3 separate regions of the Homo sapiens genome follow, and regions 2 and 3 are each linked to region 1. The links come from fine-mapping of genetic effects on gene expression. A gene starts in region 1. Each other region holds a variant in brackets. All regions are shown on one strand. Distances are between the middles of the regions. Region 1 holds the start of TMT1A (thiol methyltransferase 1A). Region 2 overlaps TFCP2 (transcription factor CP2). Region 3 holds the start of TMPRSS12 (transmembrane serine protease 12).

The links.
Region 2: its variant is fine-mapped to the expression of TMT1A in whole blood (TOPMed, PIP above 0.99).
Region 3: its variant is fine-mapped to the expression of TMT1A in whole blood (TOPMed, PIP above 0.99).

What each region holds. Positions count from the first base shown.
Region 1 is chr12:50,921,301-50,929,485 of GRCh38, forward strand. It overlaps TMT1A (thiol methyltransferase 1A), which reads left to right and starts at 3,715. Exons shown (of 2, transcript NM_014033.4): 1 at 3,715-4,236. The coding sequence starts at 3,739. RefSeq lists enhancers at 2,829-3,038, 4,052-4,595.
Region 2 is chr12:51,091,686-51,099,870 of GRCh38, forward strand. It overlaps TFCP2 (transcription factor CP2), which reads right to left. Exons shown (of 15, transcript NM_005653.5): 12 at 7,970-8,094; 13 at 7,091-7,233; 14 at 4,304-4,355; 15 at 1,971-3,593. The coding sequence ends at 3,556. Among named protein-coding and RNA genes, the nearest start is that of CSRNP2, 12 kb to the left of the region's middle. The variant C/T (reference allele first, on the strand shown) is at 3,541.
Region 3 is chr12:50,838,257-50,846,441 of GRCh38, forward strand. It overlaps TMPRSS12 (transmembrane serine protease 12), which reads left to right and starts at 4,670. Exons shown (of 5, transcript NM_182559.3): 1 at 4,670-4,895; 2 at 5,586-5,781. The coding sequence starts at 4,709. It also overlaps the pseudogene RN7SL519P. The variant T/C (reference allele first, on the strand shown) is at 4,956.

The sequences.
Region 1 (8,185 bases):
GAATTGCCAAAATGATGTTTAATGTTCTTCAGGTTATATTTTAGTGAATAATACTGATATGTGTTCCAAAATTGTATGGGATGTCTAAAATTCCAATGTCTGAGTACATGTTATCAATCAAAATTAAGGTTATGTTAAACCATTGTCAACCACAGAAATAACCAGATTTGTCAATCGTGTTTTTAACTGTAACTACCCTAGAAATTTTGTCATTCACAGACAATTGTCGTCTTGTTTTAAGCTTTTTCAAGAGACAGCTTATAATCAGCTATAAGACTTTAACAGGTGCTTTCACATGCAGGTTTCTGATAACTTTGGAAATCGTGACATGGGAGTAAAGACATACATACTACCAGTTTAGATTCTTTAATGGTTAGTAGTTTAATCAGATATTCTATGTCTTCTTGAATCAATTATGGTATTTTCAATTTTGCAGAAAATTAATTTATCCAACTCTTCAAACATATTAGCATAAAGTTGTGCCTAGTATTCTCATATAAATTTTTCTATATTATCTGTACATGTGCCCTTTTATTCCTATTATGTCTTTTCTTGAAGTCTTATTACTTTTCATTGAGATAAATTTACATATAATTAAAGTGCAAAAACTTTAAGTGTACAGCTTGATAAATTTTTACATATATATGTGTGTATATATATATCTGTTTAACTTCCAACAAAATCAAAATATAGAACATTTCCAATATCCCTAGAAGGCACCTTTGTGGCCTCTAAGTCAATAACCCCAAAATGTCTATGTAAGTAAGTCTGCTTGAATTTCATGTAAATAAAATGCTACAGTATGTACTCTCTTCCTTTAATCTGTAAGATTAATTTTTGTTGTTGTATGTATCAGTAGTACATTTGTTTTGTAGGGCTTTTTGAAAATTAAGTATTCCATTATTTGAGTTGACCATTCAATTTCATTTTTATTTTTTATTTTTATTTTTTTGAGACAGTCTCATCTCACTCTGTCGCCCAGACTGGAGTGCACTGGCACAATCTCAGCTCACTGCAACCTCTACCTCCCAGCTTCAAGCAATTCTCATGCCTCAGCCAGGCTGGTCTCAAACTCCTGGCCTCAAGTGATCCGCCTGCTTGGCCTCCCAAAGTGCTGGGATTACAGGTGTGAGCCACGGCACCCAGCCTGATAATTCAATTTCATCTGTCTCAACTGGGCTTTGTGACCCAGGTATTGTCCTTTGCTAAGAGCCTCAGAATGCTGTTTTGTTTTCACAATTCTGAAAAACAGTTTCAGGAACAACATTCAGGCTATTTCCCTAAACAAAAACAAAAGATAAGTGCAAAAGAAAAAAAGAAAAGAGTGTGTCACCAGAAGGATAATGAGGTTGTCTGATTTGTAAAAGGAAATATCTATAGCTGGAGATAAATGGCAAAGTTGTCCAGCCAGGTAGGTTCCCAAAAGTATTTTAATTTTCTTAATGATTATGTCTGGGGTTACTTTGGTACTTTTCTTACAAGCAAACTTTGTGGCCATAGGCCTCTCCATTTTAAAAAGAATAATTAAATTCTCTACAAAATTACTTTCATTCTCCTTTGCTGAGGGCTTTAGAATCTTCCAGTCCTGTGGAGTTGCTCAGTTTCTTCCCTGGATCCTGTTTTCAAAAACAGACAGAAGGGCAACCCGCTCGGGTCCCCTTCCACACTGTGGAAGCTTTGTTCTTTCGCTCTTCACAATAAATCTTGCTGCTGCTCATTTAAAAAAAAAAAAAAGGAAAGGAAACAGGCCACAGACAGAAAACAGGCCACTGATTGCCTCAGGATTAGGAATGCAGAAGGGAGGATCACAATGGAGCAAGAGTAATCTTTTAGGGGTGATGGATATGTTCATTTATCTTGGCTGAAGTGATGGGTTCACAGGTATATAGATATGTCAAAACTTATCAAACTGTACACATTAAATATGTAAAGTTTATTATATGTCAATTCCACCTAAAAAAATCTGTTAAAAATGGAATAGATACAATATTTATAAAATACATGCAGGTTATAACAAATCATGAAACAACAGAACACTCCCTGTATCCATCACCCAGTTTTTTAAAGTAAATGTTTACTATTTTTAAAAAATTATTTTTTTCTGTGTTCCCTAGCCACCCTAAAGCTCAGGCCTTTTTCTTTTTCTTCTTTCTTTTTTTTTTTTTTTTTTTTAAAGAGATAGAGTCTCACTATGTTGCCCAGACAGGATTTGAATTCCTGGGCTCAAGGTATGCTTCTGTCTTAGCTCCTCAGTAGCTGAGACCATGGGCACCCACCACTGTGCCCAGATTCGGGCTTTCTTGTAAAAAGCGGATGGATGCTTGAAACTATTTTCTGAATCCCTTTGGCTCCCAAATGTGAATATTCTGGGAAATATTTTTATCCAAATTAGCTGAGTAATCGAGTAGTTAGGCACATTTTGAAGACTGAGGCTTGTCCTTTAAAAGAAGGGCAGCCCACAAACTGACTTCCTTGAGCCAAAAATTGTTTTAAAAGGGGAAGTACAGCCCAAAACAGTGATTTTAAAATATCAACAAAAAGAGTCAAATTCTGTAAAATATTTAAAGAGATTTATTCTGAGCCAAATATGAGTGACCATGTCCTGTGACACAGCCCTCGGGAAATCCTGAGAACATGTGCCCAAGGTGGTCAGGGTACAGCTTGGTTTTCTACATTTTAGGGAGACATGAGGCTTCAATCAAATACATTTAAGAAATACATTGGTTCAGTCCAGAAAGGCAGGACAACCCGACGCGAGGCAGGGAGCTTCCAGGTTATAGGTACGTTTTAAATTTTTCTGGTTGACAATTGGTTGAGTTTATCTAAAGACCTGGGATCAATAGAAAGGAAATGTCTGGGTTGCAATAAGAGTTGTGGAGACTGAAGTTTTATTATGCAGATGAAGCCTCCAAGTAGCAGGCTTCAGAGAGAATAGATTGTAAATGTACTTAAGGTCTGCGTTGATGTGAATGCCGGCTTGAGGTATAATGAGGCATATCTGACCCCCACTTCCCCTCATGGCCTGAAACAATCTCTCAAGTTAAATTTTAAAAGCGCCCTGGCCAAGGAGAAAGTCCATTCAGATGGTTAGAGGCCTTAGAACATTATTTTTGGTTTACAAAAACGTTGAGTTGTGAACACTGAGAGCCTCTGCCCAGAATGTAAAAGAGAGAATTCTTGCTGACTGTGGCCGGGCATGCATGTCCTTTCACTTCCTTTTTTTTTTTTTAAAAAAAAAAAAAAAAAAAAAAAAAACAGGGTTTGGGCGGGGGAAGTAAGGGGGATGTGTTATGATAAAGGGGCCTTGGCAGCACTCTTCTGGTGTGGTTTGACCAGGCTCCACCCACGAATTCTGTTTTCTTTTAGAGGTCACTGGAGAGCCCGGTGGGGTGTAAGTACACTGCGCTTATAAAACTCTAGCAGGAAGCTAGCAGCTGTCTCCAAACCCAGAGAAGGGGAAACAGGAATCGATTAGGAATAAAGGATTATAATCCACTTTCCTTCTGAGGAAAAGCTGGGAACCTTCTCATTTTGCCTTATGAAAACTAAGCTGAATCGACTGCTGCCAAACATCTATTAGGCAAAATTGGCCTCTTGCCCATGATTTGACTTTCCAGCACAGCCAGTTCTTTTTCTCCTCTGCAGCTGATTGGCTCTGGAGTGTGGCCAGAAGCCTCTCTCCTGCAATTAAAGGAGTCGGGTCTCTAACTGTTGATCTGTTTTTTTCCCTTCTGAGCAATGGAGCTTACCATCTTTATCCTGAGACTGGCCATTTACATCCTGACATTTCCCTTGTACCTGCTGAACTTTCTGGGCTTGTGGAGCTGGATATGCAAAAAATGGTTCCCCTACTTCTTGGTGAGGTTCACTGTGATATACAACGAACAGATGGCAAGCAAGAAGCGGGAGCTCTTCAGTAACCTGCAGGAGTTTGCGGGCCCCTCCGGGAAACTCTCCCTGCTGGAAGTGGGCTGTGGCACGGGGGCCAACTTCAAGTTCTACCCACCTGGGTGCAGGGTGACCTGTATTGACCCCAACCCCAACTTTGAGAAGTTTTTGATCAAGAGCATTGCAGAGAACCGACACCTGCAGTTTGAGCGCTTTGTGGTAGCTGCCGGGGAGAACATGCACCAGGTGGCTGATGGCTCTGTGGATGTGGTGGTCTGCACCCTGGTGCTGTGCTCTGTGAAGAACCAGGAGCGGATTCTCCGCGAGGTGTGCAGAGTGCTGAGACCGGTGAGTGAAAGGGTGTGAGGAGGACTAGTTAGTAGCAGCTATTATCATAGAGGGCAGGCCTGTCAATTTCAGGTGGCTGAAACATTTTAACATAAAAAGTAAACTACTAGAAAATACTGTAGAATTTTTTAAAATTTTAGCGTGGGAGAGAAGCTATAAAGAGAAAGATTGATAAATCTGAATATAAAAACTTAAAACTGCTATAAAGAAAAAACCTCCTGGCCGGGCACAGTGGTTCACGTCTGTAATCCCAGCATTTTGGGAGGCCAAGGCAGGCAGATCGCTTGAGGTCAGGAGTTCGAGACCAGACTGACCAATATGGTGAAACCCCATCTCTATTAAAAATACAAAAATTAGCCAGGCATGGTGGCAGGTGCCTGTAGGCAGGAGAATCGCTTGAACCTGGTGGGGCAGAGGTTAAAGTGAGCCAAGATTGCACCACAGCACTCCAGCCTAGGCAACAGAGTGAAACTCCATCTCAAAAAAAAAAAAAAAAAAAAAAAGAAAGAAAGAAAAAAAAGAATAAGAAAAAAAAACTCCCCAAAACAAAGTTAAACTACAAAACAAGCTTGGAAAAAATATTTGCCAGGGATGATAGACAAAGGGTTAACTTCCCTCATGTTAAAAGACATTACATGTCAATAAGATCAATATTTTTCAATAAGAAAAACAAAAGGGAAAATGGGCAAATAACAGGAACAGAAATGTAAACCAATTATAGGACAAAAGTGCTCAAACTTAAAGAGTTAATTAAAGGAGATACTAATTTTACCTATTATACTGTTAGGGACTTCTTTTAAGGTCAGTATAGGGTTGGGGTGGGTTTAGGGGACTGGACACCACCATACACATTAGAAGAGGTACCCTCTTTGGGTGGTATCTGATAATATCAAAATTTAAACCACACATACTCTTTTATCCACATGCAAAAACTTGTCCATACACAAGAATATTAAGTAGAATTTGTAATTGCACAAACTGGAAATAACTGAAATGTCTATCAATAGGATGCTATGTAAGTGAGTTGTCATATTGTATAAAGGAACACTGTGCAGCTGTCAGAAAGAACAAGAAGAGTTATCTGTGCTGATACTTAAAAATCCCCAAGGGATAATGTTTAATGAAAACAAAAAGCAATCAAGCCACAGAATGTTAGGTAGAGCGTAGGCCCACCACATGCCCATTGTGTGAGGCAGGGAGAGGAGATACATATATGTGTATAAGTTAATGGGAATGACAGACAAGTAACTATTAACAGTGGTTGCCTTTGGGGAATGGGATTGGATTCAGGGAAAGAATTACTTTTCATTTTAAACCTTTCCGTAAAGTCTGTAATTCTTTATACCTGTATGTAGTTTTCACATATTACCCTTATTATTTTTAGCTAGTTTAAAATCGTTTTATATTCTGAACAAAGTTGAAGATATGGATATCTTAACATTTGAATTTACTCTTCTGGGGGAAAGGCATGTTTTGTAATCCCCAGTTTTCATTTTTTGTTGAGACAGGGTTTCCCTCTGTCACCCAGGCTGGAGTGCAGTGGCATGATCACAGCTCACTGCAGCCTTGACCTGCTGGACTCAAGCAATCTTTCCGTCTCAGCCTCCCCACCCTCCCAGCAGCTGGGACTACAGGCATGCACCACCACACCCAGCTAGTTTTTGTATTTTTGTAGAGATGAGGTTTCGCCATGTTGCCCAGGCTGGTCTCAAACTCCTGGGCTCAAGTGGTCTGCCCACTTTGGCCTCTCAAAGTGTTGGGATTACAGGTGTGAGCCACCATGCCCAACCATCAGTTTTATTTTCTAATAGAGGAAGTTCCTCAGGAAGAAAAGAACTTGGAGATAGGGTTTAGGGAAAATCATACAATCCTGTCTTGGCTCAATATCAGAGTAGTAAATAAAAAAGGACTGATTCTTATACCCAAATGCTGGGTTCTTATATGCTAAGACTGGGCACCAACTGGCACATTAGTAGATGTTTTGCTTACAGTGTTACTAATCTCCCAACACCGCTGCAAGGCAGGTAATTATTATCTCAGTTTTCCAGTGCCAAAAATCAATTGAACTCTTAAAGTTATCACATTCGTGATAGTCTTCCTTAGCTCCTGCCAAGCACCCACTCTCTGCTGGATATAACAAGGGAACTTTATTACATTTTCATTTAACCCTGTCAACAGTCCTCTAAAGTACATATCTTCATGTTAGGACAAAGAAACAGACTCAGAGAGATTAAGGAATTTGCCCAAAGTTACACAGCTAGTAGACATGGCTCTCTTTAATGCAAATGCAAATATTCCTTTTTTTTGAAACAGAGTCTTGCTCTGTCGCCCAGGCTGGTGTACAGTGGCATGATCTTGGCTAACTGCAGCCTCCACCTCCCAGGTTCAGTGACTCTCCTTGCCTCAGCCTCCCGAGTAGCTGGGTTTACAGGCACATGCTACCACGCCTGGCTAACTTTTATATTTTTAGTAGGGATGGGGTTTCACCATGTTGGCCGGGCTGGTGTCCAACTTCTGGCCTCAAGTGATCCACCCACCTTGGCCTCCCAAAGTGGTGGGATTACAGGTGTGAGCCACCGCGCCCAGCCAAATGCAAATGCAAATATTCTTACCACTGTACCACAGTGCTTGTTATTGGGGTTTTCATCTTTCTGATTTCAACATTGCTATCACTCTTGCTGGCTCTTCTTCCTCTACCCATCTCCTACCACTGGGGTTCCTTTCTTGGTGACACAGGATTTTTGCTCCTTAGCTCAGCTAGGTCCAGGTTCTTGTCTCACATTCAGGAAGAAATAGGCACGTGAACATGGAAGAGTGAGTGGAGTAGAATTTATCAAGCGAAACAGAAAGCTCTCAGCAAAAAGAGGGGTCCTGAAAACAGGTTGCTGGTTGCCCCCTTCGCAACTGAAAAGCTGATGGAGCTGGATTCCCTGTTTGTAAAGGCATGAATTCCTGGTGGCTCCACCCCATTCCCCCAGCGTGCATGTGGGGCCTTAGTGGGCTGCAGGCATGTTTAGGCAAGCCCCTGTGCAAGTTCCCTTATCTGCACAAAACATCTCATGTAACCATTTGTGGGACTGGTCAGAAGTTCTTCCGGGACCCTTCCCTACTGTCTGCCTAAAGCAAGCTGGCTAACTCCTTTCATTGGTTCATTTCACTTATATACACTCCCCAGCAATCTCATATACCTCCACAGTTCTCAAATACCACATATATACAGATGTTTCCAAATCTAAACATCTATCCCAGGTCTCTCTTCTGACCCCAAACCTTCATATCCAGCCGTCTACTCAACAGTCTCCTGGATTGCTCAGAGGCACCTCTTAACATATGTAAACCAGAGGGCAACACTGACCTCCCCAAACCTGCCTCTCCTCCTTTATGCTGCCCTATCCTATGAAGATTTTTTTTAAAATCAGGGCCGGGCACGGTAGCTCACGCCTGTAATCCCAGCACTTTGGGAGGCCTAGACAGGAGGATCACTTGAGCTCAGGAGTTCGAGACCAGCCTGGGCAATGCGGCGAAACTCTGTCTCTATAAAAAAAAAAATTAGCTGGGTGTAGTGGTGTGCACCTGTTGTCCCAGCTACTTGGGGGGCTGAGGCAGTAGGATTGCTTGAGCCCAGGAGGCAGAGGTTGCAGTGAGCTGAGACTGTGCCACTGCATTCCATCCTGGGTGACAGAGCCAGGCCCTGTCTCAAGAAATAATAAATGAATAAATAAATCAGGAAATTCCAATTTTTCTATTCGTAACATAGGTCTTACACTGACCCATATAATTTGGGGAAACTCCATCACTAAACTGAATTCTCTCTCTAAACTCTGCCTGAGGAGCCAAGACTAGGATAACTAGAGGAGGCCAAGAAGAGTGGTGCAGTTACCACAATTTTGTGAGGTGACTGTCTGGTCCCTTGCTCCTTACTCCCCTCAGAGGTAGATATGTAGAAAAC
Region 2 (8,185 bases), 170 kb after region 1:
GTGGGACTAAGAGGTAAGGGGGAAAGTTATATGATACCATTCTTTATTGTTTGAATTTATCATTCTGTGTATTACTTTCATAATGAAAAAGCTAGTATAAAATTTTCACTTAATTGAAAGGATTATTAGTGAACATATGCAATGTTTTAAAGCAAACTGAATAATTACAGTGTTCTAGCACTATGCCAATTCTTACCAATTATACATCACTGGCACAATAAAAATTTTTTGTAGCTAAAGAAAGCCTAAGAGATTTTCTGGTAAATTTAAGGATCTATAATTTCAAAGTTGTATAAGTTCATTTCCATAAATTCGAAGACTACTCTAAAAAACCCTGACTTCAGGTAAAAATAGTTAAGTGTAATTTATAGTCAATATATTAATAAAGGCCAGGCGTGGTGGCTCATGCCTGTAATCTCAACACTTTGGGAGGCCAAGGCAGGAGGACTGCTTGAGGCCAGGAGTTCAAGACTAGGTTGGCAACATGGTAAGATCCTGTCTCTACAAAAAAACATTAGCAGGGCTTCGTGGTGTGTGCCTGTAGTCCTAGCTACTTGGGAGGCTGAGGCAGGAGGATCACTTGAGCCTGGGAGTTTGAGGCTGCAGTGAGCTATAACTGGCACTGCACTCCAGCCTGGGTGACAGAGGGAGATATAATTCTTGTTTTGTTTTCTTTGAGATGGGGGTCTTACTTCGTCACTTAAGCTACAGTGCAGTGGCATGATCACAGCTCACTGCAGCCTCCAACCCTAGGCTCAAGTAATCACTGCCATACCTGGCTAATTTTTTTAACTTTTTGTAGAGATGGGGGGGCGGGTCTCACTTTGTTGCCCAGGCTGGTCTTGAACTCCTGACCTGGCTTAAAGTGATCCTCCCATTTTGGCCTCCTAAAGTGCTGGGCTTACAGGCATGAGCCACTGTGCCTCATCTATATATTTAATTTTATGCATCATTTGCAGTAAGAGTCACAAATGCAAAGATTTGGAAGAAACCTTAAAAGTCACCTAGCCTTGGGCCAGGTGCGGTGGCTCACACCTGTAATCCCAGCACTTTGGGAGGCCGAGGTGGGTGGATCATGAGGTCAGGAGTTCAAGACCAGCCTGGCCAACATAGTAAAACCCCATCTCTACTAAAAATAGAAAAATTAGCATGGCATGGTGGTCCGTGCCTGTAGTCCCAGCTACTCAGGAGGCTGAGGCAGGAGAATTGCTTGAACCCGGGAGGCAGAGGTTGCAAGTGAGCTGAGATCAGGCCATTTAACTCCAGCCTGGGCAACAGAGTGAGACTCCGTCTCAAAACAAAAAAGTCACCTAGTCTTGGCCAGGCACGGTGGCTCACACCTGTACTCCCAGCACTTTGGAAGATGAGACGGGGGATCACTTGAGCCCAGGAGTTCAAGACCAACCTGGCAGGCAACACAGTGAGACCTCATTTCTATATTTTATTTTATTAAAAAAAATTTTTTTGAGACAGTCTTGCTCTGTCACCCAGCCTGGAGTGCAGCAGCCTGATCTCAACTCATTGCAACCCCACCTCCCAGGTTTAAGCAATTCTCATGTCTTAGACTCCCAAGTAGCTGGGATTACAGGTGTGTGCCACCACGCCCAGCTAATTTTGTATTTTTAGTAGAGACAGGGTTTCACCATGTTGGCCAGGCTGGTCTTAATCTCCAGGCCTCAAGTGATCTGCTTGCCTCAGCCTCCCAAATTGTTGGGATTACAGGCATAAGCCACGGTGCCCAGACTCATTTCTATATTAAAAAAAAAAAAAAAGAAAAAGGCATCTAGTCCAACTTTCCTACCCAAACACCTAGACATAAAAAAAAAAAAAAAAAAAAAAAAAAAAATCCAAACCAATAGCAGCCTGCTGAGGAAAGAACTGAGGTTGAGAACCAGTACTAGGAATATAAGACAACCAGATACGTCTCCTCCTCAAAATGGAGACACCTGGTAATCATTCACTAAGAAGCATTTTGGTGTAATATAACAAGTTGCTCAGGTCAGTTTTAAACAAGTCATTGACTTAATTTTTTGGTTTCAAAGTTTTCAATTTGTTTCAAACCAAGAGAAATTAGACCATGATGCAGATTGAGTTTAATGAACAAAAATCTCTGTATAAAAAACATTTAAACCTTATCAAATGCTTTAAACACACACACACACACACACACACACAAATCCAAATCCAATACACAATCTTAGAACATTATCTTTGTGTACCTCAACATAACCTGTAAAAGTATTTCTAGATAAAACTTTACAAGTGAAGAAAGAAAACCCATGATGTTACACTTACACACTTACACACACACACACACACACACACAATCATTCTTAAGGAAGAACAAAAACATGGTAAGAGTGTGAACAGGAAGGGAATGCATCTTTTTTTGTAAAGCTTCTATTAAAAAACATAGCATGAGTAAAATAACTTCCTATGCCAAGAGAAGATGCAGAGAGAGGAAACAGAAAGCAGGGATGAGACTAACTCATTAATAAATAGTTTGAGAATGTCATTCAAGAACAGTAAATTTGGGGAGTTACAGATAATCCCCAGTTGTCACCACCTCAAATTCTTTGATTCCGATAACTAATGACACTTAAAAAGCATCTATGTGTTCATTTCTTGTAGGTCTTGATTTGTTCATCATTATTTAGGTGTGCTTTGTCTCTTTCAGTGGTTAATTCCTCAGTTCATACTCAGTGTTATGTTGTAGTCACCAGAAGGGCCACAGTAATAAGCGAAGTGAACACAGGTTATAATGGGTAGCACTGGTGGTATGAGAGGGTGAATAAGGAGGGCCAGATTGCCTGGTTTGGATTTCAGCATCACTGCCTGCCAGCTCCTGGCACCTAGCAAGCTACTTAGCCACTGTGTGTCTCCATTTCCTCATCTTCGGTTGGGGGTCACTATAGCACCTACTTCAGATAGTGTGATTAGGGGGTTAAACAAGATGGTCATTCAAAAAATTTATCACACTGCCTGGTCAATAAATGTTAGCTGAAAATACTATTAGTTGTGGTATTACAGGGGAACCAAAAGGAAAATTCTGTATTTCTCCTCACTGATAAAGTTTTCAGGGACAAACTGTGGCAAAAAGCAGAGATACCAGTACATTTGAGACCAGTACAAAGAGATTGAAGACCTAGTCTTATGAATATAGATACCCATTTTTATATAAGAAAAAAATTACAGGGCTCCATATCACAAAATTTAAGATCTTCCTGTTAAACATCACACAATTCCCATCATCATTATGCCCTACATACACTCTAAATTATGTAGAGTTTCTACTGATATTTAACAACAACAAGGTCCAGAAATTTAACTAAAACAGCTGCAGAACTGCATATTGGGCAGTAATCTGTGTGTACCACAAGAGCTTGGGCCAACACAGAGGGCCAGGATTCTGCCTCCATGGCCTGGACTCCTCCACACACAGTCAGACGAGTCAGGTTCTTGCAGACCTTCAAATCTCCATTCATATCCCCCTTCAAGAGGGCCGTTTTCAGAGGTGAAGGAAGGAGCAGCCACTGGGCA[C/T]GAAACGCCGCACTCCTACTTCAGTATGATATGATAGCTATCATTGGTTTCTGCTGTTAAAAAAAAGAGAGAGAGAGAATCATCTTTAGTCACCTCTAAAACACAGCAGGAGAAAAAAAGTATGGTAAGATTCTCGTGAGAAGGGGAGAAAAGGGAGGTGGAGGTTGCAGTGAGCTGAGATCACGCCACTGGACTCCAGCTTGGGCAACAAGAGCGAAATTCTGTCTCAAAAAAAATGCATTATAAAAACAACATGCCTCAATTTCCTCATCTGTAATGGAAGATGGAAGAGAATGGCAAAAAGCTGGGCCAGGCACAGTGGCTCATGTCTGTAATCCCAGCACTTTGGGAGGCCAAGGTGGGTGGATCGCTTGAGGTCAGGAGTTCGAGACCAGCCTGGCCAACAAGGTGAAACCCATCTCTACTAAAAATACAAAAATTAGCCAGACATGGTGGCACGTGCCTGTAATCCCAGCTACTTGGGAGGCAGAGGGAGGAGAATCACTTGAACTTGGGAAGCGAAGGTTGTAGTGAGCCGAGATCATGCCACTGCACTCCAGCCTGGGCAACAGATCGAGACTCTGTTTCAAAAAAAAAAAAAAAAAAAAAAGCCAACTTAAAAAAAGGAACAATCTCTAATATTGTCACTTTCTTTACCCAAATATGGTTACTTTTCCTATCTCTCCTCAAAGAAGTATGTACTTTGCCTAGTAGTAGTAAAGCTGTTAAACTGCTTAGAGAAAGATGTTTGTCTTACTATTACCTTTCATTGTGTCCAGAATAAAACATGCTTCTTCCTGAAAGTTCTGTATCATCTGAAAAATGCAAGAAAATTTGTGATTATTTAAATGAAAAACAACCCCTTTATATTCCTGTGTCCCTAAGGACTACCCCACATCCAGAGGGATTTATATGGGAGGCTTTACAGGTCACAAATAATGTATTTCTTGAATATCTAGGATCATAAAAGTTTTTTCCTCCCCTCCCATTTGGTTTTTAAATATTAAAAAACTAAGCAGATTGGAAGAGTTGTTTTAAAGCCTGGTATGCATTTCCCTGGGTTAACCCCAAGACTCTCCAAGGAGCACACGGACACAAATATGTGCATACAGGAGAACTGACTTCCGTGTCTTCAACTCCCATATGTGCTCTTTCCTAAAACCTCTTTAATTTTCCTTCCCCACTTTCCCTTCTCAAACTCCCTTCTCCCAGGGATAAACTCCCTTCTCCCAAGATAAAGGCATGAGTTTCACCCTCCCAGGATCCTAATAAGGTGGCCCATGATGTGAAAGCTTCAGGTGGCAAAGTGGAATGGCGAAGGTGAACGCTAATAACTGAGCAATAGACCCTTTTATGAGCCACATGGTTTCTAACTCTTTCCTTTCACCAGAATTAAAGAGTAACCTAATCACAAATTGTCGTAAGACAGAGGATTCAAAATGATTTTTTGGTAATATCACTATGTAATTTCTGGTATATAATTCTGAAGTATAATCTAATGACATTGTCATTACAAAATTCCATCCATTCCTATCAATTTATGGGAATCAAGTCCCTCAGCATTTATATCTAGAGGAAAAAAACAGAATGGAATTGATGCTGAAATCCTGTGTCATTCTAGCAATCAATAGGCAGTATTCAGCTACAAAGGAAATAATTATGTGCAAGGGTACAGGTAGGGAACGAAACAATTTCATCGAACTCATTCATAGATATACCTGTAATAATTTTTTCTTAATTTTTTTTTTTTTTTCTGAGACAGAGTTTTGCTCTTGTTGCCCAGGCTGGAGCGCAATGCCCCCATCTCGGCTCACGCAACCTCCGCCTCCTGGGTTCAAGGGATTCTCCTGCCTCAGCCTCCTGAGTAGGTGGGATTATAGGCACGTGCCACCACACCCGGCTAATTTTGTATTTTAGTAGAGACAGGGTTTCTCTATGTTGGTCAAACTCCTGACCTCAGGTGATCTGCTTGCCTCGGCCTCCCAAAGTGCTGGGATTACAGGTGTGAGCCACTGTGCCTGGCCTTCTTTTTTTCTTTTTTTGGATGAAGTCTCGCTCTGTCGCCTAGGCTGGAGTGCGGTGGCGCAATCTTGGCTCACCGCAACCTCTGCCTCTCGGGTTCAAGCAGTTCTCTGCCTCAGCCTCCCAAGTAGCTGGGATTATAGGCACCTGCCATCATGCCCAGCTAATTTTTGTATTTTTAGTAGAGATGGGGTTTCACCATCTTGGACACGATGGTCTTGAACTTCTGACCTTGTGATCCACCCGTCTCAGCCTCCCAAAGTGCTGGGTTTACAGGCATGAGCCATTGCGCCTGGGCAGCCTTCTTAATCTTTAATAATTACTTATTAAAACATGTAGCATATTTACATTATTTTAATCAATTGTATAATTATGATAATTCCATTATAATAATTTTTAAATTTTTATTTAAAAACTTTATTTCAAACAAATATAGTAGGATAATCAATAAAAGATGTTTGTGCATAAAAATATGTTATGGTAAGATGGCCAGGCGTGGTGGTTCACATCTGTAATCCCAGCACTTCGGGAGGCTGAGGCGGGTTGATCACTTGAGGCCAGGAGTTCGAGACCAGACTGGCCACATGGTGAAACCCAGCCTCTACTAAAAATACAAAAATTAGCCAGGCATGGTGGTGGGTGCCTGTAATACCAGCTACTTGGGAGGCTGAGGCAGGAGAATTGCTTGAACCTAGGAGGCGGGGTTGCAGTGAGCCGAGATCACACCACCGCACAACAGCCTGGGCGACAGAGTGAGACTCTGTCTCAAAAAAAAAAAGTTACAGTAAGATAAAATTCACCGGGGGAAGTAAATGAAAATAAGAGTTCAAGGAAACAGAGGAATAGTATAAGAATTCTAACTGTTAAAGAAAAGCACAATCATGTATTTTTTTTTAATGGATGGTGGTGGTATTAAATCATTTTTGTATTAAGGTTACATGGGATGCAATTAGAATAATGATGTAACCATTTCACTTAAAAATGTCATTATATATGCCCAGAAATGACATCTTTTACAACTATTTAAACTTTAACAAAAAATTTTAAGTCAACCTAAAAATGTGCATGGGAATATGTGGTTTTTAAAATATTTTAGGACCAGGCGCAGTGGCTCACATCTGGAATCCCACCACTTTGGGAGGCCGAGGCGGGTGGATCACTTGAGGCCAGGAGTTTGAGACCAACCTGGCCAACATGGCAAAACCCCATCTCTACTAAAAATACAAAAATTAGCCAGGCGTGGTGGCGCACGCCTGTAATTCCCACTATTCGGGAAGCTGAGACAGGAGAATCACTTGAATCCAGGAGGAGGAGGTCGCAGTGACCTGAGATTGGGCCACTGCACTCCGGCCTGGGCAACAGAGAGAGACTGTTTCAAAAAAAAAAAAAATTAGGAGGAAAGCAAGCAAAAAAGTATGAAACCCTCTGATCTAGAAAACAGAACACTCTGCCCCAGGAGAACTGCTCTTGCTCCATGCGCTGACAAATTAATCATCATCTGGTAATTCAACTGTACTGAAAAATCTACCTCATCACTGATGAGCACATGAATTCCTGTTGGCCCCTGCTTGTAAATCTGGCTGATCTGGCAAGGGGAAATGCTGAAAAGCTGAGCAATTTTTTCTGTCAATTCAACAGCTGTTAGTTCTTCTAGATAGATAGCATGGTAAACTGCAAAAGGGAGAGAGCAACAGCAGTCAGTACAAAGTTTGTCCACTCTTACAGGTAACTTGATCACTAGGAATGCCCACTTTTCTGAAGGACTCAGAAATCACACTGCCTAAGTTCAAATCCTGGCTCAACCACTTGCAGCTGTGTGACCTAGGGCAAGTTATTTAACATTCCTAGGCCTGATTTTTCTTGCATAAATACCGGAGATAACAGTAAAATCCTCCGCAAAGAGGAGATATTAGTTGTAAATATTAAAGCATATAAAAAGTGTTAAGAATAGTACCTGGCTGGGTGTAGTGGTTTACACCTATAGTCCCAGCAATTTGGGAGGCTGAGGCAGGGAGATCGCTTGAGCCCAGGAGTTCAAGACCAGCCTGGGCAACATAGGGAGATCCCATCTCTACAATAAATAAAACAATTAGGCAAATGAGTAGCTTTAGTTCTAGCTACTCGGTAGGCTGAGGGGAGAGAATCACTTGAGCCCAGGTGGTCAAGGCTGCAATGAGTCATGATTGTGCCACTGTACTTCAGCCTGGGTAACTGAGTGAGACTCTGTCTCAAAAAAAAAAAAAAAGAATGGCACCTGCCATGTATTAGGAACTTAATAAATGCTAGTGATTATTGTTACTTCTAGCAAATACTAAATCTGCTGTTTGATAGTTTCCCATCACACATGCCCATAAGTTATCTCTTCACCTTTCTTCATATCTGTCCTAGTGTGTCCAGAACAACCTACCGAAGAAAGTACCATTTGAGTCTCCATCCTCATGCTTCTGCTGCTGTTGCTGCTGCTGTTGTTGCTGCTCCCTCAACTGCAGTGATTCCTGACAAACATAAATGGTTAACCTTGGACGCACCATCCTAAGGGGAGGAAAAAGGCTAATTAGTCTTACATTCTTTATGGTAAGCACAATAAAAAGAAGGGAGAAATTGTGTTTCTACATTAATCGTA
Region 3 (8,185 bases), 83 kb before region 1:
ATAATAATTATTATTTTTAGGGACAGGGTCTCACTCTATCACCTAGGCTGGAGTACAGTGGCATGATCATGGTTCACTGCAGCCTTGAGCTCCTCCTAGGCTCAAGTGATCCTCCCACCTCAGTTTCCCAAGCGGCTGTGATTACAGGCATGTGTCACCATGCCCAGCTAATTTTTTAAATTTTTTGTAGAGATGAGGTCTTGCTATGTTGCCCAGGCTGGTCTTGAACTCCTGGCTTCATGCAATCCTCCCACCTCAGCCTCCCAAAGTGCTGGGATTACAGGTGTGAGCCACCATGCCTGGCTTGAAGAGAATATTGGTGAAACATTCTGGAAAACAATTTGGCATTATTTGGAGAAGATGATGGTATTCTTTATGACTCAGTAATCCTACCACTAGTATGTAGTCCAGAGAGACTCATCTCATATGCATAGTAGTATTAGTTGTAATAGAAAAAACCTGGAAATAATGCAAATATCCATCAATAATAGATTCCAAAGTAGATAAATACATTGTGGCATATGCATATGATGTGTGGGAGAGAGTAAATGAATTGCAGTTAGATAACCACAGAAATGAATGTAAAGAACCTAATGCTGAGTAAAAAAACAAAAACTAGCTGCAAAAGAAAATTTATCATATGATTCCATTTATATAAAGCTCATGTAATGATTAATCTTATGTGTCAACCTAATGGGGCTAAGGGATATCCAGATGGCTGGTAATCACAACTTCTGGGAGTATCTGTGAGGGTGTTTCCGTAAGAGATGTGCATTGGAATCAGGAGAATGAGCAAAGAAGATTGTTCTCGCCACTGTAGGTGGGCATCATCTAATCTGTTGATGTCCCCAGCAGAACAAAAAGGTGAAAGAAGAACAAATTATTTCTCTTGAGCTGGGACATCTTCTCTTGTCCTCAGACATCAACACTCCTGGGTCTCAGGCCTTCAGACTCAGACTGAATCACACTGCCAGCTTTTCCTGTTTCTCCAGCTTGCAGATGGCAGACTGTGGGATTTCTCAGCCTCCGTAATTATGTGAGCCAATCCCTAAAATCTCTCTTTCTCTTTTTTTTTCCTCACTCTCCTGTTGGTTCTGTTTCTCTGGAGAACCCTGAGTAATAAAGTTCAAAAACATGCAAAACTAAAAAATATATTGTTTAAAGCAGTGCTGTATAATAGAACTCTTCACAACGGTGGAAATATTCTACAACTATGCTGCCCAGTATGGTAACAAGTGTCATGTGGCTACTGAGCACTTAAAATATGGCTAATGTGACTGAGGAACTGAATTTTTATTTAATTTAAATTTGAACTTAAATTGTCACATGTGGTGAGGGGCTACCATACTGTACGGCAAGGTTTATAACGAGAATAAATGAAATAAATACAAAATCCAGAATATTGGTTACTTCTGAGAGAAAAATAAAGACAGAATGAGGGAGAGATACACAGGGGATTTCAAAAGCAAAAATAATCTTCTTTTTCTTAAATGGGTATTCTTCTACTGTTATTCTTTAAACTGAGCATATATTTTATAAATATCCTTTTATATGTATTAAATATTCAGTAAAACAAATGTAGTGAATGGGGTGGTGTATACATGGATGTTTGTACTGTTATTAAATTCTGTGTAATCAAATAGTTTTATTTTCATAATTGCTAGCACTGAGACATGCCCCAGGTGGGAGGATAAAGCCTCCCCAAAGCCCAGGCCCCAAGCCCTGGTACTAATGCTCTTGTCCTCCATAACCATGGATCTTAAGCTTTCACTTGGAAAGGAGAGGTAGGATGTTTTGTTTTGAGGCTCACTTAATTTTCTCTAAAAAATTTTAATGGGGTCAAGGCGCAGTGACTCATGCCTGTAATCCCCGCATTTTGGGAGGCTGAGGTGGGCTGATCGCTTGACTCAGGAGTTCGAGACCAGCCTGGGAAACACAGTGAAACCCTGTCTCTACCAAAAAATACAAAAAAAAAAAAAGTTAGCCAGGTAAGGTGGCACATGCCTGTAGTCCCAGCTACTTGGGAGGCTGAGGCAGGAGAATCACTTGAGCCTGGGAGGCAGACATTACAGTGAGCTGAGATCATGCCACTGCACTACTGCAGCCTCAGTGACAGAGTGAGACTCAAAACAAAGAAACAAAAAATGTAATGGGATGAAGTTGGTTAAGCTAAGAGAGCTTCTGTGGACAAGGTCTCTTTTTCTGAGAGGAGAAATAAAGTCCTGCTTCTATTCTTAAAAATTAACAAAAACCAACAAAATTTTTAAAAAACAAAGATGGGAATAAAAGGTGAAGAAGTAGGCTGGGTGCGGTGGCTCACACCTGTAATCCCAACACTTTGGGAGGCTGAGGTGGATGGATTTCTTCAGGCCAGGAGTTTGAAACCAGCCTGGGCAATGTAGACCTTGTCTCTACTAAAAGAAAAAAAGTTGAGGAAGTGGAAAGTAGAAACTGTAATTGTAAACAACTTCTTGGGTGAAATTTTGCTATAGAGGAAAGTAGGGGATATAAAGTCAATTGAAGATTTTTCTAAGGTGGGAGAAACCAGATGTATTATCTGTTGCTGCGTAACAAATTATCCCAAAATGCAGTAGCTTAGAACAACAAAAATTTATCTCGTATTTTCTGTGGGTCAGAACTTTTAAGTGTAGTTTGGCTGGGTGTCTCTGACTTAAGGTCTCTCATGAGGTTGCAGTTAGGGTGTCAGCCAGCACTGTGGTCTCATCTGAAGGTGTGATCGGGGAAGATCTGCCTCTAAGCAGATCATGCGGTGTTGCATGATTCAGCTTTTCGTGGCTGTTCAACTGAGGACTTCAGTTCCTCAATGGCTCTTGCTGGCAGCCTCTCTACAGGGCCACAGGGCAGCTTACAACATGGCAGCAGCTTTACCTTAGAGCAACAGGACTGCAGAGAGTGCTCAGGACAGAAGTCACAATCTTTTTATAACCTAATCTTGAAAGTGGTAGCCCATCACCTCTACTTTCTATTTACTAGAAGTGAGTCACGAAATCCAGCCAACACTAAAGGAGAGGGAACTGACTAAGGCTGTGAATACCAGGAGACAGGGTTCATTGGCGGGCATTTTGTAGGCTACCTACCATACCAGAGGATATTTGTCTGCAGATAGGAGTGATCCCACCAAAGACAGGAAATGACAATGCAGGAGAGGAGAAAAGGCAGAGGAAATCCAGGAAGAAGACCTCTGCAGTTATTGATCCACTGCCTTTTTCATTTTATTTGGAGAGATGGGGTCTTGCTTTGTTGCCCAGGCTGGAGTACTGTGGCTATTCACAGGCATGATCTCACTACCAATCAACACAGGAATTTTGATCAACTCCATTTCCAGTCTGGGCCAGTTACCCCTCCTTAGGCAACCTGGTGGTTCCCCACTACCCGAAGGTCACCATATTGATGCCAAACTTAGTTGACCAGTTGACATAGCATACTACAGTCCAGAACTCCTGGGCTCAAGCAATCCTCCTGCCTCAGCCTCCTGAGTAGTAAAACTAAAAAATATATTGTTTAAAGCAGTGCTGTATAATAGAACTACAGGCATGTGCCACCGTGCCCAGCCCACTGCCTGTGTCACTGCTATTTGATGACTTGGCTGCATATACTTGCTTTATGAGTATGTTAAACCTCTACTATCTGTCATAGCAAGACCCGTCATCCTTATCACGTTGGCTATGGGTTTAAAAAAAGAAAAAAAAAGTCATCTTGCCTTGTTTACAAAGGCATACACAATCTGACCACATCTCACACACACAGAAATACACACACCCCAACTGTGTTTTTCTCCTCCTAATATCACCTTCCACTAAAATATCTGGGGAATAAGGACTTTGTTTCTTGTCAGCCCTCAGAGATCAGCTCATGCTGCAATTTGTTTCTCCAATATCACCTCCTCCACCCCAATTTCGGCACAGCTCTGAGACTCTGCTCCCTTCCCCACATGTTACCATGTGTAAGCCCCAAACTCATATACTCCTTTTATCTAATGCTGCCAACTGCACCAGCCTCGGAAGGATGGTATGAGCAAGGCAACTGTCCTTTTATTGACCTCTACGTTAACTCTCCACCACCTCACCAACTTCCCACAGCCCACACGGTCTTCTTATTACTGAAGGTGTTGGGTTAACAAAGGCAAAGTTCAGTATAGGTCAAGATAGGAATGACAGAACAATTTAAAACTGAACATTAGGTATCACTCTTAAAAACTCTGGGTTATGTTAAAGAAAAATTATTCAGTGATACTCATTAAAGCACAGCAAGGCAGACTTTATTCAGGACCATCCAGATAGGGATAGGGACCATGGCAATGGGATTTTGTAATGGGTAGAGGGACTGGGCTAAAATCCAAACAGAGCAGAGCCAAGGGAGAATTTACAGCCACGGAGCAGGAGAGACGTGTCAGTGGATGGAAAATTACTAAGAGGTAGCATCAGGAGTAATGGCATTCCGGCTAACCGACCTAACAGGATTCTTGCTGGACAGGCCAGGGTGATCAGACATCACCTGGGGGATAGTGGTGGATGAGGAAGCCGATCAGACCTTGAGGGTGAGGGGTTCTTTCTAAACTGACCTACCTATTCCTCGGCCGCCTCCCACACCTCCGGGCCTCACTCGCGCCTCCCCGCCAGGCCGTGCGCCCCGCGTGCCCAGGGCGGGTGGGAAGTACCTGCCGCCATCTTGCTCACCAGCCTCCAAAATGCGGCTGGGGCTCCTGAGCGTGGCGCTGTTGTTTGTGGGGAGCTCTCACTTATACTCAGACCACTACTCGCCCTCTGGAAGGCACAGGCTCGGCCCCTCGCCGGAACCGGCGGCTAGTTCCCAGCAGGCTGAGGCCGTCCGCAAGAGGCTCCGGCGGCGGAGGGAGGGAGGGGCGCATGCAGAGGGCAGTACCTGTTCGTGCCTGTCTCTGGGGAGCCTCTCTTACCTTTTCCCCACCGCTATAG[T/C]CTTTGAATTCGGGTTTCTCCTTTTCTGTTGTCCCAATGGCCTTTAACCAAAATTTTACATACCTAAGCAGTTTCTAGACCGGCTGTAATAACAGTAGTTGTAATAGTGAAATGACACATTTGTATTGTGAATCTGTATTTTCTCCTCAAAACATTCTGGGTTTTATCATCCCCATTTTATAGATTAATAAGTCAGGGGATAAAGAGTTGAAAGGGAGGGCTATTAGGTGACCATTTCATACTATAGTTGAGAAAAATTAGCCCAACAAGTGAAATGGTGAGCATTAGAATTTGCGGCTCTCGACTCACCGTTCCCAGGCTCTTTAACTGCTATTTCACACAGGGAAGAATGTGATACGTGGCCAAAAATTTTTATTTTTATATTTTTGGGGAATAGAGTTTTAAAATTAATGAATTGTGTTGACTTCATGTCTATTTGTAAGTAATCGATTATGGCATATTTGTCTTAACTCTCCAAGTTTCTTTCAAAATATGGGCGTGTCTCCGGTATGTTAGCTTGCTTTGTGTTTTTAACATAGGAATTTAAAGGATTGCATTAATATGTTCAGCTTAGGAAGTAACACATACTATAGATGCTCAGTCCAAATAATATATCATTTTTATTTTTAGATTGTGGAACAGCACCGCTTAAGGATGTGTTGCAAGGGTCTCGGATTATAGGGGGCACCGAAGCACAAGCTGGCGCATGGCCGTGGGTGGTGAGCCTGCAGATTAAATATGGCCGTGTTCTTGTTCATGTATGTGGGGGAACCCTAGTGAGAGAGAGGTGGGTCCTCACAGCTGCCCACTGCACTAAAGACGCTAGGTACGTATTCAGAACACAACTATTTTTATGCTCTTAGGGGATATTTTGAAGTGATAGAGGACCATTTAACTTCAGCCATTTTCAGCTAAGCTATGTTTGCAAATAGCCATAATGCCTTATATATAGTACAGTGTATTTGTTGAAAGGAATCCTTTATTTATTATTATTATTATTATACTTTAAGTTCTGGGGTACATGTGCAGAACGTGCAGGTTTGTTACATAGGTATACATGTCCATGGTGGTTTGCTGCACCCATCAACCCATCATCTAACTACATTAGGTATTTCTCTTAATGCTATCCCTCCCCTAGCCCCCTACCCAGGAATCCTTTATTTTTTACTTTTTTTTTTTTGAAATGGAGTGTCACTCTGTTACCCAGGCTGGAGTGCAGTGGTGCAATCTTGGCTCACTGCAACCTCCGCCTCCTGGGTTCATGCGATTCTTCTGCCTCAGCCCCCGGAGTAGCTGGAATTACAGATGCCTGCCATCATGTCCAGCTAATTTTTGTATTTTTAGTAGAAAAGGGGGTTTCACCATGTTGGCCAGGCTGGTCTTGAACTCTTAACCTCACGTGATCTGCCCGCCTCAGCCTCCCAAAGTTCTGGGATTACAGGTGTAAGCCACCATGCTCGATCATGGATCTTTTAAATTAGAGGCTGGTAAACTTCCTATAAAGGTAGTAAATATTTTACACTTTGAAGGTCATATGGTCTCTCTCACAATTGCATGAAAACCAGCACTGAAAATAAGTAATTGAATGAGTGTGGCTATAATCCAATAAAACTTTATGAACACTGAAATCTGAATTTCATATGTTTAACGTGTCATGAAATATTGTGGTTGATTCAGCCATTTAAAAATGTAGAGTAGGGCATGTTGGCTCATATTTGTTATCCCAATGCTTTGGGAAGCCAAGACGGGAGGATCACTTGAGGCCAGGAGTTTGAGACCAGCCTGGGAAATATAGCGAGACCCTGTCTCTATATTTAAAAAAATTGTTAATGTAAAAAACATGCTTTATGGACTGTATGAAAACAAGAGACATGCCAGATTTGGCCTTCACTATTAGACTCTTTGAAAAAGAGACTCTCTTTGCTTCATCTCCATTGACCCATAAAATCCAACTGCAGTCTGATTTTTGTGGCCAAATGCTGTTAAAGATCCACTTCCATGCCAAATCCAATGACTTCATCTCAGTTCCCATCCTTTTTGACCTCTACAGCCTTTGGCAATGTTGACCACATTCTCTTCTTGAAATTATCTCTTTTCTTGATTTCTAAGACACCATTCTCTACTTTTTTCTCCTGCTTCTTTGATGAGTCTTTGTCATCCTTTACATTGCAGTGTTTTCTAGAGTTTGCCCTCTGCCCTCTGTCATTCTGTACTCTTTCCTAGAGATGTCTAATCTACCTCTGTTTCAGCAATCACCATGTGCTGTCAACTCCTAGGTCTCTCCTGATGAGTCATATTTCCAGCTTTATTGGAGTCACATTTTAAATAAGTCCAAAATGGAATTTACTTTCCTCTGATACTATTTCTTCTCTATTTTCTCAGTTGATAGCATCATCAACAGCTCCATTACCCAGAGAGTTATCTAATTTCTCCCACTTCAGCTATCCAAGTAGTCTCCAAGGCCTGTGAAGGCTCTCTGTGCAGTATCTTACATTTGCTTCTTCTGTCCCTCCACCCTCCCTACTGATTAAAAGTACATCCAGAATATCAGTCTCTATATTCCTAGCTTATGACTTATCATACTTATATTTACACTACTACTTTGATAATAACTATCCTAATTAATATGAAATGGTAGCTCATTGTGGCTTTTATTTCCATTTCCCAAATTACTAGTGATGTTAGGCATCTTTCTATGTGCTTATTGGCCATTTGTATATCTTCTTTGGAGGAATGTCTATTCAAGTCCTTTGTCCATTTTTGAACTGGGCTCTTTGCTTTTTTGTTGTTGAGTTGTAGGAGTTCTTTATGTATTCTGGATATTAATCTGTTGTCAGACACATTATTTGCAAATATTTTCTCCCATTCTGTGGGTCATCTTTTCACTCTCGATATTGTCCTTTGATACACAAAAGCTTTTAATTTTGATGAAGTCAAATTTATCTATTTTTTTTCTTTTGTTGCCTGTGTTTCTGGTGTAATATGTAAGAAATCATTATATCAAATCCAGTATCACGAAGCTTTTCCCCTATGTTTTCTTCTAAGAGTTTTATAGCTTTAGCTCTTAGATTTAGGTCTTTGATTCATTTTGAGTCCATTTTTGCATAAGGTATCAGGTAAGGGTACAATTTCATTGTTTTACGTGCAGCTATCAAGTTTCCCCAGCACCATCTATTGAAAAGTTTGTCCTTTCCCCATTAGATGGTATTGGCATCTTCATTGAAAATCAA